3 linked regions of the Homo sapiens genome follow. The protein of the gene in region 2 interacts with the protein of the main gene of each other region in a pairwise test. Each region holds a gene or a part of one and is shown on either strand. Other genes may lie near its edges.

Region 1 (7,210 bases), on a different chromosome or scaffold from region 2:
CTTGGACGCCTCCAGCACCCCCGAGAGCACCCGCTCCTCCTGGTGGGAGAGCAGGGAGAACCGGTAGCCACGCAGCCCCCATGCACTCCAGCGCCTGAGGGTCCCAAACTCCTTCCCCTCAGCCTGTCACAGACCCTGCCTCCCTCCCCCACCCTGCACCCCATCAGTCTCTAGGCCCCGCCACTCCCTTCCATCTTCTTCCCACCAAGATCTCTTCAGGTACTTTCTCCCTCGCCCCTGGCCCCGCCCTTTGTGCAGGCCCCGCCCTTCTGTCCATGCCCCGCCCCTCCCCCCCGGGAACAGCCCTCCTTCCAAGGCTGCATCACTTACACAGCCCCCCCACTCCCCTACACCTGCCCCATCCTCTGGAGGCCCTTTCCCAGACGCCACCTCCCTGAATTTGTCCTCACCCATTTCTCCACCTGTGACTGTCCCCTCCAGAGAACCTGCCTCTCTGCCCTCGGGACCCAATCTCGCCCCTCCTCCTGGCCCGCCCCCTCGCGCACGCCCCGCCCCGCGGCTCCGTCTCCGCCTCACCTCCAGCTGACTCTTGTAGGCCTCAGCCGCCTGCAGCCGCTCGCGGCAGCGCCTCAGCTCCTCCTGCAGGCGGGGCAGGCGGCCGGCCCGCTCCCGCAGCGCCTCTGCCTCCTCGCGGTACAGCTCGGCCCGCTTGGCCTGTCCCGACAGCGCCTGGGCCTGGGCCAGACGGTGTGGAGCTGGGAACAGCCAGCCGCGGGCCAGAGGGATTAGGGACGGGAAGGAGCCGGGTTGGGAGGGAGGCAATGGGACCGGGTGCGGGGAGGTTAGGGAATGCCGCGGTGGCGGGGAGCATGTGAGCGCACCTCCTGGCGGAGCCTTCTTATTTCGGCCTCCAAACCCTGCACCTCGGCCTGGGAGTCTAGCAGCAGCTCGGCCTTCTCCTCCCTGGAGGGAAGGGGAGTCTAGGGAGGGTCTGGGGGCCCACAACCCCCAGCCCTTCCCAGGCCTGACCCCTCCCGTAGCCACCAGGGCTAGGGTCCCATCCAGGCTTAATCTGCCCCTCTCCACTCAGTCCCCTTCCCAGGCTGCGCACACTCACAGCTCCTGCCGCAGACGCCGCAGCTGAGCCTTGGCGTTGGCCAGCTGCAGGGCCAGATGGTGCGAGGGGCCCTCGGCGGGAGCCCTAGAGGGAGCCTCAGGCCTCAAGCAGAGGGGTTCTCGCTCCAGCAGCAGTTCAGCCAGCCGCTGTAGGTCAGGGGTCAAGGGTCAGGACTAACTTATCCAATGCCTCTGCACATCGACCCCCAACCACAACACCAGACATGGGGTTGTGGTCTGGGGTCTTGGGCCATCTGGTTGTGACATCACTGATGGCCCAAGACCTCAGACCACAACCCCATGCCTGGGCCCCAAACTTCCATCTCCCTTGCACAACCGGCTCCCTGATGGTCCTCCAGTTCCCCAACCTGAGTCCACGATGCCCCTGCTGCCCCTACCTGGGCCCCCAGGTCACGCTCCCGTGCCAGCTTCGACAGTGTCCCCATCAGGCTCCGGGACAGCATCTCCAGCTCGGCAGGTGCCAGCTCCCCAGGATCTGGCCCAGACAGTGCCAGCACCACGCCGGCCCCCGGCTGGGTCACCTGGGGCGCAGGAAGAGCAGTTCAGTGGAAGCCGCGGTGTGGCAAGGGCGTCCCAGGTGCCATACCAGTCTGGGCTGCCGAACCGTCTCAGTACCTCCTGGATGGCAGCGGCCAGCTCGCTCTGGACCTCGAGACTGAGGCCCTGGATGTGGCGGATGAAGAGTTCCCGGTGCTCACACTGAGGGGAGACAGGAAGGGGAGCTGGTGCAGGATCTCCCTCCTCTACCGCCAAAGCTCGACCCTAACCTTTCCTTCCCACCGCCGGCTCACCTGTACTGACGCTCCCAACAGTAGCCGAAGAACGCCTTCCAGCTGCTCCACCGCTTCTTCTGCAAGGCACATGCCACAAGGGGTTAACTGGGGCGGGGAAGGTAGAGTAGTGCGGGGGCAGAGGCAGGAGGGTGTGGGTGGGGAGAGCACCTGAGAGAGGGTCAAATCCCAATGTCTGGAGGTCTGGGGGTGGCGACAGGATCAGCAGCTGCAGCTCCTCCTGGAGGCAGAGAGGCAGACTATATGAGGCGCCTTCCCGAAGGGGCTCCTCTTCCCCTCCTGTCTCCGCCTTTCCCTCGAGACCCCTTACCTGGTAGAAGTCCCTCAGTCGGCCCCACAGGTGGTTCAGGTTCCACACTCGCCAGGCAGCAGGTCCGTCAAGGCCTCTGAGCATCCGAGGTCCCCCTCGGGAGCTGGGGGCACTATGAGCCGGAGGTGGGCTCGAGGACCCGCCTCCCGTCAACAGGCCTCGCCCACCGTCCCTCAGGCCCCGCCCACTGAGCATCAGGCTCCGCCCACCCGCTTCCCCTCCTCTCAGATCCTTCCCCGCCACCGCCCCGGCCCGATGCCCCTTACATGATGCCCAGCACCCGGAGGAGCAGGGCCCCATCGCTGAGGCGCAGGAATCTCTTCTCCAACCAAAGGGGCGGCTCTTCCTCCTCTTCCTCTTCTTCCCCCTCCGAGTCCTCCGCCTCCCCGACCAGCCCGGCCAGTCCCAGCGCCTGTGAGGAGCCCAGAGGGGTCAGCCGACCAGCAGAGTGAACCCTGAGCCCCTCCGACCTGCCCCAGTGAGCCCAAGCACCCCTTCTCACCCGTCCTCTGAGTGCCTCTGTCCCCTCTTCCCTCACCACAGCCCCCCACACCATATCTCCATCCCCCACATTTGAACCCAGCCCTCCCCTCCGGCCTGGTTCTGCCTCACCCTCCCCCGGCCAGCGCCAACACCAGCCCCTGGCTGGGGCTCACTTCCCCTCCCCAACCCGCTGCCACCTGCCCCCTCACCCAGGTAGCCAGACTCCCACTCAGGAAGTCTCTGAGCCTGGGCCCCTTGCCCCCCTCCATGCCCGGGTCGGGGTGCCCGTCTCACTGTGGCAGCTGCACCTGCCCTGAGAGGAAGAGGAAGTCCCCGAGTGGGGGATCCCGGGGCCAGCCACAGACACCCTGTGCAGCTTCCTCCTTCCGGGTGCAGGCGGGCCTGGGCAGTCTGAGTCCTACCTCAGCCCCCACCTCACCTCCCTGCATCCTCCTAGCATCTCTGCAGGGCTAGCCCAGAGGTTGGCGGCGGAAGGCCCACAGCTCCCCTGGCTCCATGGGCAATGACCGAACAGCCCTTCACCTCTCTGGGCCTTGTTTTCTCAAACTGAAACTGGAGAGGATGACCCCAGCCTGGGACCTTCGAGGGCCTCAAAAGGGCTCTGGGCCTTGCGTGGTGAGTTTGGTCACCCACACACCCATCTTCCCAAATGCCAGGCTTCACTCACTACAGCGTTCTTTCTTTTCCCTTCAGTATTTCTCAAAGTTACCCAAACCACATCCCCTGGGAAGCCTGGTTCAGATGCTCCTCCAAGAAGCCTCCCTTGAACCCCAGATAGAAGGGAGCATCATTCCTGTGACCTCACCCCACCCCATCCTCTATACACTCGAGACTGTTGTAGCCATACTAGGTGCTATGAAGGGGAGGGGATTTGACCTCGGCAGGATGATCAGGGAAGGCATCCTGGAGTACGCATGAGATCAGGGATGGCTGGGTTAACAGGGCAAAGTGGAAAGGAAGGGAGGGTATTCCAGGCAGCAGGAACAGAATGTGCAACTGCTCTGAGGCAGCTGGAAGCATGGTCAGCAAAAAGATTGGAAATTATGCATGTTTTATCTATTCCAAGATGCTTAATGTTCACGTTTCACTTTTTGTTTTGTTTTGTTTTTAAGAGACAGAGTCTGAATCTGTGACCTAGTCTGGAGTGCAGTTGCAAGATCACAACTCGCTGCAACTTCAACCTCCTGGGCTTAAGCAATTCTCCTACTTCAGCCTTCTGAGTAACTGGGACTACGGGTGTGTGCCACCACACCTGGCTAATTATTTTGCTTGTTTTTTGTACAGACAGAGTCTTGCTGTGTTGCCCGGGCTGGTCTCGAACTCCTGGGCTCAAGTGATCCTCCCGCCTTGGCCTCCTGAAGGGCTGAGATGACGGCATGAGCTGCCTCACGCAGCCCCCATTCTACACCTCTGAAGTGAGTTTACATGGTACAGTTGCTGTCTGGCTAGCTGCCGTCCCAACATCACTGTCAGGACCCACACCTGAAAAGCACCAGCATCAAATCCTTCAGAAGAGTGTCAGCAGCTTGGAAGAAATCCTAGAGGCAAGCAGAACCCTTTTTAGCCCTGGGACTCAAATGGTGGGAAACCCCAGGGGAAGGGAACCAGGCTTGTCAGTGACACTCCCTTTTTTTTTTTTTTTTTTTTTTTGGTGAGACGGAGTCTCGCTGTGTCTGTCGCCTAGGCTGGAGTGTAATGGTGCAATTTCGGGTCACTGCAACCTCCGTCTCCCGGGTTCAAGCAATTCTCCTGCCTCAGCCACCTGAGTAGCTGGGATTATAGGCACCTGCCACCACGCCCAGATGCTTTTTTGTGTTTTTAGTAGAGACAGGGTTTCACCATGTTGGCCAGGCTGGTCTCGAACTCCTGACCTCAGGCAATCCACCCACCTCGGCCTCTGAAAGTGCTGGGATTACAGGTGTGAGCCACCACGCCCGGCCTGTCAGTGACACTCCTAGAGCAGAGTGAAAACTCGGCTCCACTTCATCTGCACAATTGTAAAGCTGGCTTAAGAGCGCCTGGCTGTTTTATGGAATGTTTGGAGCAGTACTGCTCTCCGTAGAACTCTCAAGGACTCAGAGAAGGAGGTGGCAGGCAGACACAGACATCACGACTCTCAGACCAAAAATGATTCAAACAAGTTGGACTCTAAATGTGAAGGAGTTTTCTGAACATGGTAACCAATTTATTTTGCTTCTATTATCCTTTTTATGTGTGCATGAGAATTATATATGATAAGAATCTACATTTAAGTGAAACAGAGCTCTTTCGAGAAATACAAAAGAAAAATTCTAGTGATGAAAGAACCTTGGGACATCGTTAACTGGCAGCATTCTCTTTTCTTAGTGACATTTTTATAATCGATGACATCTTAGTTTTTTTTTGTTTTTTGTTTTGAGACAGGATCTCTGTCACCCAGGCTGGAGTGCAGTGATGCAATCACAACACACTGTAGCCTCAACTTCCCTGGCTCAAGGGATCCTCCCACCTCAGCCTCCTCAGTATCTGGGACCACAGACATCCACCATCCACCCAACTAATTTTTGTATTTTTTGTAAAGATGGGGTTTCACCATGTTGCCCAGGCTGGTCTTGAACTCCTGATCTCAAGCAATCCGCTTGCCTTGACCTCCCAAAGTGCTGGGATTACAGGCGTGCACCACTACATCTGGCCAACATCTTAGATTTGATGAAATATGGCGTAATAATGACATCATAGCAAACACGGGCTTCCCTTGAGCTAGGCATGGTTGTAAGTGCTTTACACTTACTAACGTGTTGGCTCTGGACTAGTCTGTGAAATAAGGACTATGGATTATCTCCATTTTATAGAGGAGGGAACAGAGAGGTTAAGTAATTTGCCTAAGGTCACACAGCTTTTAAGTGGCAGAGCCAACTAAAAGAAGGCAGTGGGGCAAGAGTGCAAGGAGCAAGGGGCACCCATAGTCAAGGTGAGCTGGGCTTGACCAGGCCACAGGAAGCCATGCAGGATTGGTAGCAGAGGAGCACAGCCAGCTGTTCAGCCCTTTTGAAATACCTCTGGAAATGGGAGTGATCCTCTCATTGTTGCCAGAATTCCAGGCCTTGATGCCCAGCACAAGCCTTCATTAAATGTCCCTGGGGTGATTATTATTATTATTATTATTATTTTTGAGACAGAGTCTCGCCCTATCACCTACGCTGGAGTGTGGTGGAGCAATCTCGGCTCACTGCAGCCTCTATCTCCTGGGTTCAAGCGGTTCTTCTGCCTCAGCTCCCTACAGAGCTGGGATTACAGGCATGCGCTGCCATGCCTGACTAATTTTTCTATTTTTTTTAGTAGAGATGGGGTTTCACCATGTTGGCCAGGCTGGTCTCAAACTCCCGACCTTAGGTGATCTGCCCACCTCAGCCTCCCAAAGTGCTGGGATTACAGGTGTGAGCCACCACACCCAACCTGATTATTATCTTTAGTATTAATAATATCAAGGATCAAGGCCGGGCACGGTGGCTCACGCCCGTAATCCCAGCACTTTGGGAGGCTGAGGCGGGCGGATCACCTGAGGTCCGGAGTTCGAGACCAGCCTGACCAACATGGAGAAACCCCATCTCTACTAAAAATACAAAATTAGCCAGCCACGGTGGCTCACACCTGTCATCCCAGCTACTCGGGAGGCTGAGGCAGGAGAATCGCTTGAACCCAGGAGGCGGAGGTTGCGGTGAGCCGAAATCGCACCACTGCAATCCAGCCTGGACAACAAAAGGGAAACTCCATCTCAAAAAAAAAAAGAAAAGAGAGAAAGAGATCATGTCCTTCGTGGGACATGGATGGAGCTGGAGGCCATTATTCTTAGCAAACTAATGCAGGAACAGGAAACCAAACACCGCATGTTGTCCCTCATAAGTGGGAGTTAAATGATGAGAACACACGGACACAAAGAGGGGAACAACAGACACTGGGGCCTACTTGAGGGTGGAGGGTGGGAGGAGGGAGAGGAGCAGGAAAAATAACTATTGGATACTGGGCTTAATACCTGGGTGACAAAATAATCTGTACAACAAACCCCCGTGGCATGAGTTTACCATATAACAAAGCTGCATGTGTACCCCTGAACCTAAAATGTAAGTTTTTTTAAAATTCTATACCTGGCCAGGCACAGTGGCTCACGCCTGTAATCCCTGCACTTTGGGAGGCCGAGGTGGGTGGATCACCTGAGGTCAGGAGTTTGAGACCAGCCTGGCCAATATGGTGAAACCCTGTCTCTACTAAAAATACAAAAATTAGCCAGGCATGGTGGTGATGGATGCCTGTAGTCACTGGGGAGGCTGAGGCATGAGAATTGCTTGAACCCAGAGACGGTGACTGCAGTGAGCCGAGATCGGGCCACTACACTCCAGCCTGGGGGACAACAGCAAAACTCCGATATATATATATATATGTGTGTGTGTGTGTGTGTGTGTGTGTGTGTGTGTGTGTGTGTGTGTATGTATATATGTGTGTGTGTATATATATGTGTGTATATATGTAT
Region 2 (7,019 bases):
AGACCTCAAAAGCATAGGCAACCAAACCAAAAATAGAAAAATGGGATTATGTCAAGCTAAAAAGCTTCAGGACAGCCATGGAAACAATCAACAAAGTGAAGAGACAACCCACAGAATAGGAGAAAATATTTGCAAAGTATCAATCTGACGAGGGATTAATAACCAGAATATATAAGGAGCTCAAACAACTCTGTAACAAAAAACCAAATAATCCAGTTTAAAAATGGGCAAAAGATCTGAATAGATATTTCTCAAAAGAAGACATACAAATGGTCAACAGAGATATGAAAAAATGCTCAATGTCACTAATCATCAGAGAAAAGCAAATCAAAATTAAATGAGATATCATTTCATCCCAGTTAAAATGGCTTTTTACAAAAAAAATAGAGAACATCTTTTTTTTTTTTTTTTTTTTGAGATAGAGTTTCACTCCTGTCACCCAGGCTGAAGTGCAATGGTGCAATCTTGACTCACTGCAACCTCCATCTCCAGGTTCAAGCGATTCTCCTGCCTCAGCCTCCTGAGTAGCTGGGATTACAGGCGCCCACCACCATGCCCGGCTGATTTTTGTATTTTTAGTAGAGATGGGGTCTCACCATGTTGGCCAGGCTGGTCTCAAACTCCCAACCTCAGGTGATCCACCAGCCTCGGCCTCCCAAAGTGCTGGGATTACAGGCATGAGCCACTGCGCCTGGCCAAGAATATCTTTTCTGTAAAAAGATGCTGGAGAAGACGTGGAGAAAGGGGAACCCTGATAAACTGTTAGTGGGAATATAAATTAGTACAGCTACTATGGAAAACTGTATGAAGGTTCCTCAAAAAACTAAAAATAGAACTATCATATGATCTAGAAGTTCCACTGCTGGGTATATATCTAAAAGAAAGTAAACCAATATATTGAAGAGATATCTGCCTTCCCATGTTTACTGCAGAGATATTCATAATGGCCAAAATATGAAATCAACCTAAGTGCCCAGAAGTGGATAAATAGATTAAGAAAATGTGATATATATAATATTATTCAGCCATAAAAAGAATGAAATCTTGTCATTTGCAACAACATAGATGGCACCATAGGTCATTTTGTTAAGTGAATAAGCCAAACACAGAAAAACAACTATCGCATGTTCTCACTTACATGTGGGAGCTAAAAAAGTGGATCACATGAAGATAGAGAGTATATTAGTGGTACCAGAGGCCAGGAAGTGTGGGGGGAGGACAAAGAGAGGTTGATGAATGGGTATAAACATACAGTTTGACAGGAAAAATAAGACCTAGGATTCAATAGATCAGTAGGGTGGCTACAGTTTACAATAATCTATTGTATATTTCAAAATAGAAGAGAATAATTTGAATGTTTCTAGCATAAAGAAATATTTGAGGTAAAGGATACCTAATGACATGATTTGATTTTTATAAAATATATGAATGTATTAAATTATCACATGTACCCTGAAAATATGTACATCTGTTATATATCAAAAGAATTTTTTAATTTCATGAATGTATTTAATGCCACTGAATTGTACGCTTAAAATAGTTAAAATGGGAAGTTTCATGTTACACACACATATATACATATTATTTAAAATAGTAAAGACGCTTGTGTTTTAAGCCTCTAAAATAGTGATGAACACAAGGGAGGAAACAGAAGGGGAAGACAGAGGAGAGGGGTATGGAAGGAGAATAGGGAAGTACAGAGTTGCTAAAGGGAATGGAATATGGGTGAAGAAGAAAAACCTTTAAAAGGGATTTTTAGAAAGATTTGCTGTGTAGTATAGATATAAGCCACTTCCTCTGAAATCTTGAGCAAATTCCATATTATTCACCAATTACTTTGGTGCTTGAGTTGCAGTTTTAGTTTTAAGTGCTGACGTGGATGAGAATGGCCTTGAGGCATCCGGATATATTTGGGTCACACTAATCTAAGCAGGAATTTGTGTCACTGTGGCTTTTCTCCATTTGCCCCTCTCCTGACCCCCTTGTCTTCTCATGCCCCTGAGGACACTCTGGGCCCTGAGATGTCCTCCACCCCCATCCTGCCCCTCACCTCCACGCAGCAGTGTGCATCCAGCGGGATAATGCCCCTTTTCTCTTTGCACTCTTCACTCCCAAAGTAGCAGAGGCAGCTGGGCTGCAGCTGGAACCAGCGTTCGGCCCAGTTCCTTCTCAGGTGCCCTCGCTTCCACAGGTAGCCCTGCCAGCCGGAGTTACGTCAGAGGCTTCCCAGGCCCCCCTTCGCCCTGCACCTTGTGTGCTTCCCCTAGTTCCCAGCTTGCCTGACCTGCTTCAGGACATCTTGGATGAGCTCCTGGTAGACCTCGTGGATGGCCATGCTGAGGGTGTCCCGGCCCACGCCCCGCAGGCAGCGGCCCGAATTGAAGAGCTCCAGGAACTGCCAGACGCTGAGCCCCCCGGTGGTCTGGGCCACCTGGGCCTCCTGGGCCAGAAGCTCCTCCAGCTCACCCAAGCTCACCTCCAAGCTCATGCTGCTGAGTACCTTTTTCAGCAGGTATTCCACCTGGAGCAGGAGAAGGAAGGCCTGGTAGCTGCAGCAGGTGGTGTTGCCAGCACCAACACCAGGGAGTGCTCTATCTGGCTCCCAGAGCCTGGGCAGAGGGAAACAGGGGACAGAGCGTTGAGGGGGCCAGAGGACCGAATGTTATGGAGCCAGGGAAAAGACCTGGGAGAGGATCCTGGAGCCCCAACCCCAACTCAGGTTTTCTCTCCCCGTCCACAACCTCCAGTCCCACTCCTTCCTGTCTTAAGGGCAAGGTGAAGGGGACCTGAGATCTGGGGTCCAGAAAGAGGCAATAAATCACAGAAAGTGTCAAGGGAGTGCAAAGGCCCTCTCATCCAATCACTCATTTTGCAGATGACCAAAAAAAAGCCCAAAGGGGGAAGTGACTGGCTCTAAGTCACACAGCAAACTGGGGGCAGCCAGAACCCGATTCTGATCTCCTGAATCCCATTCAGGTCCTTATTCCAAGCCCCAATCCCCAACCCTGGGGATCTTTCCCTTGTGGGAGAGGAAGGGGATTTGGGGTAGGGGTAGGCGTTGGGGAGTGGGGAGTAGAGGTAAGCTGGGCAGGGACAGGAAACCTGTTACAGAGGAACCGGAAGTGGTGGCTGGGGTACATCCTGCTGCAGTTGTTAACTCTGTATGTTGATCGCAGAAGCAAACAACCTCCTGGCCTCCGAGGCCACCTTGCCCTGACTGGCAGGGGTCTAACAAGGGCAGCCAGCCAAGTGTATGTGCAGATGGACACATGTCCCTCACCTGCCCCAGCAGCTTTTTGGGACACTCTGTTTAGGACTTTCTGGGGGATCCTGGGTCTTGTTTGGGTGTTTAGTAGAGGGCACTGGTTCAGGGCTCGGGTGGTTCCCTTCATCACCCTTCCCACAAACAGAAGCCAGGACAAATGTGAGTGGAGCTTGACATGCTAGGGCTTCTTGTAAGTACAGAAGCCCCCTCTCCTGTAAACCCCACTCTAAAGACCTAAAGTCACCCTGGCATCTCCACAGCCACCAAGAGGACTAAAGGGTCACAAGGCCAAATGGGCAGGGGAGGGAAGTGAGGATAAGAGGGAGGGTACAGGTGGATGGGAAAATGCCTTCCCTGGCTTCACCCAGGAGTAAGGAGATAGGGACCAGATTCCCAGCCTTTTCTCCCAGGATGCCCTATCCCTGGGTCTCTTAGCTGAGTTTGTCCTGGCTTTCCAGAAGAAAGGCAGAAAGGGAAAATCTGGAACCAGAGTAACCTCCTGTCTCAGAAAGGTCTCCCCTTGCCTTGTAAAGCATCCTTCCTGTCCTGGAAGAAGTGGCAAAAGGTAAAGGAAAAAAAAGCACCCTTCCTAGATTGCCAGTAATGCTCAGTAATGTATCTGGCATTTAGACCTCTGTGTAAACAGAATTTGCAGATCATTTTCCTACAGTGAGGACCAGCAGAACCCTCATGAAAGTGTAATTTCAGTTTTCCTGGAAGAAGGCAAAATTACTCTGACACAGGCAGTTCTAGGCATCTGGAGACAGCTGGGTGAGGACAGATACCAGCATGGGAAGATGGTAAAGAAAGAAAGGGGATATGGGAAGGCACCAAAGGTGGTTTGGTCTCATTCATGGTTTTGCTTAGGTCTGGTCCCAAGTGATTCAGTCCCTGGGGCTGCCATCACCCTCACCTCATCAGGAACCATGATCAGAGGGTACTTGTCCTCAGACAGGAAGTTGAAGAGGCACCAGAGGCGGAAGGCATCCTGATTGGAGAGCATACTGTTCCCGTTGCTATCTGCCCGATAGTTCTTCTTGGCCGTCAGCGTCCAGCACAGCTCATCAAAGTGCTCTTTAACAAAAGCCCCCTCCTCCACCTGCCACCAGGGCTGCAAATCAGCTGACTGCATATCTCAGCTCTACCACGACACTAGGCTCCAGCTGGGTTTCTTGGGTTCATCTATGCCCCTGCTCCCCACCTGGCCAAGTCCAGGGCCCTAACTCAAGGGATCCCTGAGCTGATTACCAGGTAACTAGCTGGTTCCAACCACTCCACCCTCCACAACACACCCACACCCACCCAGGCCCCCTGACAACAGATTAACTCTAGTCTTTCAGCCCAGAGGACAAAGAAGGAGAAACCCAGCAGGAAGCTAAGAGCCAAGAACCTGGAAACACAGTGACAGATTGGAGGAGTTGGAGGGGGAGTTCAGGGGGACAGTCTGGGAAGGGTGGAGAACCCTGGAAGCTGGAGGAGGGCCGGGCAGGGATTCGGTGGAAGGTTATGGGTAGGGTGGGGCCCACCTCATTAGAGATGAGGGACATTGAAGGTGAATTGAGGGGGACAGGAAGGGGGCAGGTGGCTGGGATGTGAGGGACGTGATGGGACAGCAGTCACGGACAGAGCAGGCAGAAGTAGGAGTTTATGGCAGGGGCGAAGAGTTGGAGTGGCAAGGTATTAGGCTGCTGGCCAGGCTGGAAAAGTGGGGAGAGGTTACAGATGCTCCCTACAAGCTGGGCCCCACCTTGTCCAGGATGTACTTGTTGAGGTAGGGCATGTATCCCTGGCTGGACACAGGGCCGTCATCATCATCTCGGAAGTGTTCCTCCAGGGCCACGGGGTCATGGGGGATGTGCAGGACCGTGTACAGGTTGTGGGACAGCACCTGGGATAGAGTAGAGTGGCAGTGTGTCTTTCTGCACCCCAACCAAAACTGGGCCAGAGGACTGCTCCCCACCTCTCTGCTTGTCCTCACCCCATCCTGGCTGAGTTCTCTACACACACTGTTCAGTTCAGTAATAACTAAAACTTATATACTATGTGCCAAGCACTGAGCTAAAGTACTTTACATATCATTTGCTTAACCACCATAACAACTACTCATATACCCATTTTACAAATGAAAACTCCTGCAGCCCTGAGATATTTCTCACCCAAGGTCACAGCTGGCAGAACTGGAATTCAAACCCATGCAGTTATACTCTTAGCCACTTCATTAGGTATTGGTGTCCTCTTTCTACAGACAGGGAGACTGAGGCTCAAGGGATTCAGTAACTTGCCAAAAGACCCACACTGAACAAGAGCTTGGAGTTCAAATCCATCTCCATCAGATTCCAAAGCCCAAGTGCTTCCCACAATGCTAGACAGTTTGCAGGGTTTGCAGGGACTTAGTCTGCCACCCCAGGGCAGAAGCTGCCAATTTATCATGGTTTCCATCAAAGACTCAGTGTCCTGGCTGCAGTGTGCCTATCACCTAAGCGTGTCTGCTCTGGGAGAGGAGAGGGCTCAAAGAAGGGTCATGAAAAATGGTCCATGACATGGAGAGGGCAAGGCTTAGAAGGGATAGTGGTCATAATGGTGTGCAGGGGAAATGTGGGTTTGTTGAACAAATCCATGATATTAGAATAAAGGGGTTGAAATCTGAAATCTGGTGAAAATAAAATCTCCTTGGGGTAATTCTATTATAGCATTTGTCACAAGCAGTGTAAATGATTAAAAAGTCACTAGTTACTATTGCACACTTACCATATGCCGGTCACTGTAGGAGGTGGTTTATTTAATTAAAACTGTTTTTTATTTTATTTTATTTTATTTTATTATTTTATTTATTTTATTTTATTTTATTTTATTTTATTTTATTTTATTTTATTTTATTTTATTTTGAGACGGAGTCTTACTCTGTCACCCAGGTTGGAGTGCAGTGGCATGATCTCAGCTCACTACAACCTCCACCTCCTGGGTTCAAGTGATTCCCCTGCCTCAGCATCCTAAGTAGCTGGGATTACAGGCACCCACCATCACATTCAGCTAATTTTTGTATTTTTAGTAGAGACAGGGTTTCACCATGTTGGCCAGGCTGGCCTCGAACTCCTGTCCTCAGGCGATCCGCCCACCTCGGCCTCCCAAAGTGCTGGGATTACAGGCCTGAGGCACCATGCCCGGCCAAAACTTTTTTTTTTTTTTTCGGTAGAGACAGAGGTCTGCATATGTTGCCCAGGCTGGCCTTGAACTGCTGGCCTCAAGTGATCCTCACATCTGGACCTTCCAAAGTGCTGGGATTTCAGGCATGAGCCACTACACCCAGTCAAAGCGCTTTTTATACCCCATTTCTAGTCTTCACAATCACCTATATACGCAAATATTATTAAGCCTGTTTTTCAGGTGAAGACACAGAGGTTTGGAAATTTTAAGAGTAAATGGCAGAGCTGAGGTTGAAACTAAATGTGCCTGGTTCACAGGTTGCCTTCCTACTAGAATACTGATGTCAAGTCTCCCTCCTCCGTTGGATTGTGAACTCTGGAGACAAGGTCTCTGTTCATCTTTATGTCCCTCAGCATCTATGTCCTCTTTTGTACATCAAGTGCAATCAATACATGCTATATTGAAGGGCTTCTTCCACCACCAGCAGTTCACCTTGGAATCAGTTCCTAGGAGGCAGGAGCTAGCACTGTCTCGGAGATGGTGTGTGTGCCAAGCCTTCATTTTATTCTCTTTTCAGAGAGGAGGGGGAGAAAGTATTGAGACTTTGCCT
Region 3 (7,571 bases), on a different chromosome or scaffold from region 2:
CCAGCACTTTGGGAGGCCAAGGCGGGCAGATCACCTGAGGTTGGGAGTTCGAGACTAGCCTGACCAACATGGAGAAACCCCGTCTCTACTATAAAAAAAAAAAAAAAATCAGCTGGGCATGTTGACGCGTGCCTGTAATCCCAGCTACTCAGGAGGCTGAGGCAGGAGAATCACTTGAACTTAGGAGGCAGAGGTGGTGCCATTGCACTCCAGCCTGGGCAACAAGAGTAAAACTCCATCTCAAAAAAAAAAAAGTACTGGAAGATTTTCTTTTCCCTTCATTTGATGGCTTTTCTCCATTCAGAATTCACCTGTCAGCATTTTAGGAAATGAATTTAAGTTGTGAAACACTACTCAAACACTCTCAGGTTTGAGAGAAAATATATTTGGGAAGACCAAATCTGAATGTGGAAAAAGTTTTCTATCAACTTACATGCTGTCATACCAAAACAGATCATCCTAAGAGAGCAATCAACCAAGAACACTTTACACCTGAAAACATTTCTCTTACTGCAGTTCAGTTTCCTTCAGTGCTGAAAATGAGTATTAATCTGACAGTATTTGATACTTTATCAAGTAGGTAAGAGTAGTGCACCAGAACACAAACAAGAGCTGGCTTTAAAGCATTAACCAATCAGTATCCCAGGAAGCCAGGGACAATAAGCCATGTCAGAGTCAATGACTGAGGCCTGGCACAGTGGCTCACCCCTGTAATCCCAACACTTTGGGAGGCCAAGGTGGGCGGATTGCTTAAGCCCAGGAGTTTGCCTGGGCAACATGGCGAATTCCCATCTCTATAAAAAATACAAAAATTAGCCGAGCGTACTGGTGCACGCCTGTGGTCCCAGCTACTCAGGAGACTGAGATGGGAGGATGGCTTGAGCCCGGGAGGTCCAGGCTGCAGTGAGCCATGATTGCACCACTGCATTCCAGCCTCGGCGACAAAGTGACGCCCTGTCGGGTGCAAAAAAAAAAAAAAAAAAAAGAAAAATCCATACTAAGGAAATATATGGATGTGTGCCCAACTAGGATATAACCCTTCTTGTCATCAGTGGTCCCAACTGCTTCAACACTGTTGAGCAAGTTTTATGGGATCCAGCCTGACACATTTCAGGGACCCAGAAATGAATTTACAATTTGAGTCCTGTCAACCTCTTCAAAAACATTCAGTAGCCAACAAGACATGTACTGATGCAAGATCTTTAATAAATATGACTTCCTCTCTCTCCCAAAAGCAGTTATCTGGACAAGCAGTTTAAGCATCTCCAGTTTTTAGCTAGGGGAAATATGACTGAAGCCTTACTTTTTTGAGTCCATATCCAATTTGTAATAGAAAATAAAAAAACAGGATTGAAAAGCCAGTTACCCATGAAAAGCACACTCAAGAGCATTCCTATGGGGAGTCTGCCTCTTAAGGAAACATCAATACAGAGGACACTAACTTTGTAACGCATCCTAGGGCTTTAATCCTCACAGTACAGTATGTAAATCAATAAACGTACCAATTACATAGCTGTTACAGAACTTACAAAGTATACTGATCCGCAATTTTAAAAAAATCTAAGCCTACATTCCCTTCACCTAAAAGCCTCTCAAAGCAAATTCCAGCTTAAACGCTGGGTATCTACACTTGCAGAAAAATGTTCAAAGTAATGCACTACTAAATTTAGTTAATATTTAGTCCATGTAGTGAGTCAGAATGAGATTACCACTTAATAGGAATGAAATAGTTATACAATGTTACTAACTTCGCCACCTAAAAAGAAACACTATTTCATTAGTGGCAAACCTTACTTTTGTATAGCGATGGGGGCATTTGGAGGCAGGAGGCTTCTTCAGGTCAAGGAAAGCATCTCCACTTTCTGTTTCACCCATACTTCTCCTATCCATGGCTCCTTGGTCTACAATGCTCTGCACCTGGAAGATAAATCGGCACAAAATTGTCACCGAGAACAGTAAGTTTTCAGAAATCTTGGCTGTTTCTTCAGAAGCTGAAACTTTTTAATCTCTCAAAACAGCTAGTGTTAAAAACAAGTCCCCACCCCAAAATTATGCTATAAATTAGAACTTGGAGATAGAATCATTGGTACTCAGTTCTCTTTCCTAGTATCCTAAGCATCAACATGGTAAAAAGTAGAAGGTGCCCAATTCAAGGTATATAACCTTTAAGCAGCTTTAACACAAGAGAAACCAAGATTAGTAGCTGCCACCCATGGGGATCTTTCAAGACTGGTGGGGAAGTTTCCCGGAGTGGGGGCAGGTAGAAGACTGGTTAGGCTGGGAACCCGCGAAGTCTGTTGGAAAGTGCCTGTCACTTGCCAATGGACGGCGCCAGCTGCCCCTTGTTATCCGGCGATCAGGGACTGGGGACGGGGCCCGAGCGCCCCTCGCCAGGCCAGCCGCACCTGTGGCCATGTCAGGGGCGCCGATGGCAAGGAAAGGGCGAGCACCGGCTTCAGCTCCGAAACTTGGCTTCCCCGGGCCGCGACCCCAACCCGCAGCCCCTCACGCAGGCCCGGGCCCAGCGGCCTCCTTCGGAGGAAGGGCGGAGACCGTACTCACTGAGGGGCGGCCGGCCGCAGGGAGGAGGGAGGCCGAATCTCCCGGCCCGGGCGCTTCAAGCTGGAGCTAGCGCAGGCCCGCAGCCGTCCTCCCCGGCCCGGCGGCTCGGTCCCCGCCAGCCAGCCCGCCGGCTACCCGCCGGCCGCCTTGCGGGCCTCGCGCCCCTGCCCACCCCCTGCGGGCGCCCCGGCGCCCGCGCTCACGCACGCGACCCCGGGAGCAATGCGCCCGCGCCCCTTCTACACCCGGGAGCACCGGGCGCGCGGTGCCCCGGACCCAGCCGCCACCGCCGCCGACCCTTACTCGGTGCCTCCGCCGCTCGGCGGCCCTTTGCCTCGGCCGCCGCTCCCCTCCCCGCTGCCCGCACCGGTCCCAGCGCCGCTCCCCGCAGCCTTCGCTCTCGCGCCCCCACCCCGACCGGCTTGGGCTGTCTCTCTTCAGCCGCCGTAACTGCAGCCCGGCCCTCCGCCCCTCCTCTTCGGCCCCCTCCCCCTTAATAACTCCCTCCACGCACCCTGGCCCCGGCGCCGCCTTCCCCGCCGCGCGCCCGGATGTGAGGTGGCTGCAGCGGTGCCGGGCGAAAAAGAAGCATCGCCGCGCGCTTCCCGGACGCCAGCCCCTGCGCGGGCCGGGGGGTGGGAAGGTGGTGGCGGCGAGGAGGAGGCCACGGTGGGGATAGCGGAAACCCGCTCCCGTGCGCGCAGGCGGTCGCCGTGGGCAGCCCAGAGGCCACCGCCGCCGCGTTCCCACGCGCGCTGCAGGGCAGAGCGGACGGCACTTGGGACCCGCGACTCGCGGCACGCCACTCTCCCGGAGGCGGTGGCTAGATGGGGCTGGGCTGGCGGCTAGCACGGCCTGTGGCGCGACGACCGCTGTATTTGCATGGTTCGCATAGGCAGAGAACCGTGGGGCTTCGGCAGTGGGAATTTGAGATAGGAGATTGGGGTCTTCCGAGCCTTCCCAGTGCGGGTTCGAACCTCAGCTGTTTTGCGAGTGGCGTGATCTTAGGCAAAGCTGACTTAACCTAAGTTTCGGTCGTGTTTCTAAAATGGCCTCTGTAAATCTATGAGGCTTATGCGCGAGTACTGGTTGCTGCATTAAAAGACAAACTTGTCACGATTGGCTTTGATAGCGATAAAGGCGACTAACAAATTCATTGAAATGTTGTTTCCCTCCGGTAACCTGAATCTGTCCTTAGCCTGCACAGAAAGGGGAAGTGCGAGTGGAGTTGGGGAAATGAGACGGCGAATGTCAAGTGCTTACCACGTAGTGCAGACTCAGGCTGACAGGGGGCCACAGAAATGCAAATATGTGAGCAGTGTGGGTAACTGCATCCTGGGGAGGAAGTCCTATGTGCTGGAATACCACAAGCACCCATTTCTGCCCTGTGGTACTGCGCAGCGTTGGTGTGAAGCGATACATAGGCGTGAAGTCCCGAGAACGCAATTTTCCTGGTTAAAGGACAGCAACGTCTACATTTCTTCCAAGAGGCCTACTTTGTTGGAACTTCACTTCACTTGTGAAATTAGGGTGTTGGGCAGTGAGTGACCACTAACTCAGCTCCCTTCTTGTGAATCTTGGCAACAGAAAACTTTTCGTTTGTATTACTGAATAAAGTGTGTTTCTTACAAACTGTTTTTTTACAGGCAAGAGGCAGAGGGAAACACTTGCACATCAGGCCTGAGTTTGCATTCTCATCTCTGCCACCTCCTACAAGCTATGGAGAGTTAGTCTATTGATTCTTAGTTTTACCTGTGAAATTGCGAAGATGATATAACCTGCTCATGGGGCAGTTAAGATTAAACAGGATAAGGTGGGTAAAAAACCATATATAACCCATAAAGCTGCTGAGCCTTTTTAAGCCTATACAGAGACACGTTGCAGGTGATAATACAGATGTTATTATTTTAACAATCAAGCTGTTTTTGGAATCCAAATTCTTCCTAAAGCTGTGGGAAACAGGTCTAATCCCCTTTAGTGTCTTGGAGACTCCCTGGAGTAGTGGAGAAGGCCCGTTCTTTGAAGCTGCTAAATCCTGACCCTGCCAATTAGTGTGAAACCTGAGCCAGGCATTTCACCACCTGGATCTCCCTTTCCTCATTTTTCCGAAAGGGATCGCAGTATACCTACTTTTTAGGCTTGCAGAGGGAATTAAAGATAACATTAAAAACACTGCTCTGGTTATTTTATTTTGGGGGTGATGAAGTCTTGCTCTGTCATCCAGGCTGGAAAGCAATGGCACAATCATAGCTCACTGCTCCAGCCTCAGCCTCCCAAATAGCTGGGACTACAGGCTCCTGCCACTACAGCAGGCTAATTTTTAACGATTTTTTGCAGAGACGGGATCTTGCTATGTTGCTCAGGCTGGTCTCAAATTCCTGGCCTCAAGTGATCCTCCTGCCTCAGCCTCCAAAAGCACTGGGATTACAGGCATGAGCCACCACACCTGAGCTTTCTTGAAAAAGAAAATACTAGAAACCCGGAAATTATGGATTTCTGGTTACCTACTGTTACGTAACAAACCACCCCAGAATTCCAATTATATTTTGCTCTCAAATCTGCAAAATGGGCTGGTTCCTGCTGGGACGGCTGGTTTCTGATCCATTCAGCACCAGTGGGGGCAGCCCAAAGGCTGGGGCTGAGGGTCCCGTAAAAGCGTACATGTCTGGTGGTTGATGGTGGCTGTCAGCTAGGACCTGGGACCATTAGAGCTGTCCCTGGAACACTTACACATGGCCTCTCCCTGTGTCTGAGCTTCCTTGAAATATCAGGGCTGGATTCTAAGGGCAAGTGTTCAGAGAGCGAACAAGAAAGCCATATAGTTGCTGTATTGCCTTTCCTAACCTAGCCCTGGAATCAGTTCTACCACGTGCCACATTCTGTTCCTTAGAAAGGAGTCAGCACGGCTACCCTATATTCAAAGCAAAGGAACTTAGACTCCACCTCTATGTGGGAGGAATGTCAAGGAATGTGTAGGCATGTTTTAAACCACCACAAGCCATACATGATATCAGTGCCCAGGGCATTGTAGCTATCATGATTTGATAGCTGGAACTAATTTCCTGAGCCCTCTGGTCTATCCTACTTAGGACCTACTTTTCCACTAGGCTCCTTTAATGTCTTGTAGAACTTTGGCCTCAACTCATTTCTTACCTCTCAAAGTCTCACTCTGTCCTTATAGAAGAAGATGGTTATTACCTAGGAAAAAAGGTAATAATCTAAGGGAGGCTTCCCTAAACTTCTTTCACCTGTGCCTGGCAAAAGCTAGATGCTTACAAATTGCAAATTCTTGTTTCATTGTAGTTTTTGAGTGTTACTCTCCTTGGCAGGATAATTTTTATTTTTATTTTTTATTTTTTGAGAAGGAGTCTCGCTGTATCGCCCAGGCTGGAGTGCAATGGTGTGATCTTGGTTCACTGCAACCTCTGCCTCCCAGGTTCAAGTGATTCTCCTGCCTCAGCCTCCTGAGTAGCTGGGATTACAGGCGCATGCCACCACGCCCAGCTAATTTTTGTATTTTTAGTAGAGACAGGATTTCACCATGTTGGTCAGGCTGGTCTCAAACTCCTGACCTCATGATCCGCCCACCTCGGCCTCCCAAAGTGCTGGGATTACAGGCATGAGCTACCACGCCCGGCCTGATAATTTGTAATTTTTTTTTGAGACGGAGTCTCGCTCTGTCGTCCAGGCTGGAGTGCAGTAGCGTAATCTCGGCTCACTGCAAGCTCTGCCCCCTGGGTTCAGGCCATTCTGCCTCAGCCTCCCGAGTAGCTGGGACTACAGGCGCCCGCCACCACGCCCGGCTAAATTTTTTATTTTTAGTAGAGACAGGGTTTCACCACGTTAGCCAGGATGGTCTCGATCTCCTGACTTCATGATCCACCCGCCTTGGCCTCCCAAAGTGTTGTGATTACAGGTGTGAGCCACCGCGCCTGGCCTATAACTTGTAATTTTTTGAGACCAAGTTTTGCTCTGTCGCCCAGGCTAGAGTGCAGTGGCACAATCGGCTCACTCAACCTCTGCCTCCTGAGTTCAAGCAATTCTCATGCCTCAGCCTCCCAAGAAGCTGGGACTACAGGCCTGTGCCACCACACCTGGCTAACTTTTGTATTTTTAGTAGAGATGGGGTTTCACCATGTTGGCCAGGCTGGTCTGAACTCCTGACCTCACGTGATCCCCCAACCTTGGGTTCCGAAAGTGCTGGGTGTGAGCCATCGTGCCAGGCCAATAATTTGTAATTCTAAATGCCCCCTTCTGCAACTAATAACCAATTTTCAAGTATCAGCTTGGGAAAGCTCTTTGAGAGAGAAATTATTCTAGTTCTTTACTAAATATGTGTAAGATCTTGGTTTAGGTCTAAATTGTTGGCCCAAAGTTTGGCATAAGGGGTCTCAAAGGTTCAGTCAGTCGGGGAAATTAGCAGTCCAAGAACAGCAGAGAAGCAAATGAAAATACCAGAAACTGGCCGGACATGGTGGCTCATGCCTGTGATCCTAGCACTTTGGGAGGCTAAGGTGGGAGGATCACTTGAGATCAGGAATTCTAGACCAGCCTGGCCAACGTGACCAAACCCCGTCTCTACTAAAAATACAAAATTAGCTGGGCGTGGTAGCATATGCCTGTAATCCCAGCTACTTGGGTGGCTGAGCTAGGAAAATTGCTTGAACCTGAGAGGCGGAGGTTGCAGTGAGCCGAGATCGCGCCACTGCACTCCAGCCTGGGTGACAAAAGTGAAACTGTCTCAAAAAAAAAAAAAAAAGAAAAAAGAAAATACTAGAAACCCAGAAATTATGAGAGCACCTGTGAGAGAGTTTAATGCCAGGCCATGACCTTTCAGCAGCCTCATCACAGAAGGCTGGATTGCACCTCTCTAAATGGGCTTTTTCCTACTCAGTTTTTCTTGCTCCAAGAGTAACCCTTAGATTTTTTTTTTTTTCGAGACAGAGTCTCGCTCTGTCACCCAGGCTGGAGTGCAGTGGCAGGATCTTGGCTTACTGCAACCGCCCCCA

What was found.
Region 1: the proteins of DEF6 (region 2) and CCDC88B interact in binary tests that used the Homo sapiens proteins (3 or more experiments, as listed by UniProt).
Region 3: the proteins of DEF6 (region 2) and EIF4ENIF1 interact in binary tests that used the Homo sapiens proteins (3 or more experiments, as listed by UniProt).

What each region holds. Positions count from the first base shown.
Region 1 is NC_000011.10:64,336,008-64,343,217, reverse strand, and holds the start of CCDC88B (coiled-coil domain-containing protein 88B), read right to left. Parts: upstream 3,015-7,210; 5' UTR 2,952-3,014; coding exon 2,892-2,951; intron 2,678-2,891; exon of another isoform or gene 2,612-2,677; coding exon 2,466-2,611; exon of another isoform or gene 2,426-2,465; intron 2,312-2,425; coding exon 2,200-2,311; intron 2,110-2,199; coding exon 2,040-2,109; intron 1,949-2,039; coding exon 1,890-1,948; intron 1,798-1,889; coding exon 1,714-1,797; intron 1,620-1,713; coding exon 1,476-1,619; intron 1,370-1,475; exon of another isoform or gene 1,314-1,369; intron 1,225-1,313; coding exon 1,079-1,224; intron 925-1,078; coding exon 843-924; intron 697-842; coding exon 538-696; intron 40-537; coding exon 1-39. UniProt on the Homo sapiens protein: Acts as a positive regulator of T-cell maturation and inflammatory function.
Region 2 is NC_000006.12:35,307,804-35,314,822, reverse strand, and holds part of DEF6 (differentially expressed in FDCP 6 homolog), read right to left. Parts: intron 5,154-7,019; coding exon 5,013-5,153; intron 4,365-5,012; coding exon 4,179-4,364; intron 2,610-4,178; coding exon of another isoform or gene 2,522-2,609; coding exon 2,285-2,521; intron 2,198-2,284; coding exon 2,051-2,197; intron 1-2,050.
Region 3 is NC_000022.11:31,486,829-31,494,399, forward strand, and holds the start of EIF4ENIF1 (eukaryotic translation initiation factor 4E transporter), read right to left. Parts: upstream 3,015-7,571; 5' UTR 2,866-3,014; intron 2,729-2,865; exon of another isoform or gene 2,416-2,728; coding exon of another isoform or gene 2,320-2,415; intron 1,918-2,319; coding exon of another isoform or gene 1,891-1,917; coding exon 1,795-1,890; intron 1-1,794. UniProt on the Homo sapiens protein: EIF4E-binding protein that regulates translation and stability of mRNAs in processing bodies (P-bodies). Plays a key role in P-bodies to coordinate the storage of translationally inactive mRNAs in the cytoplasm and prevent their degradation.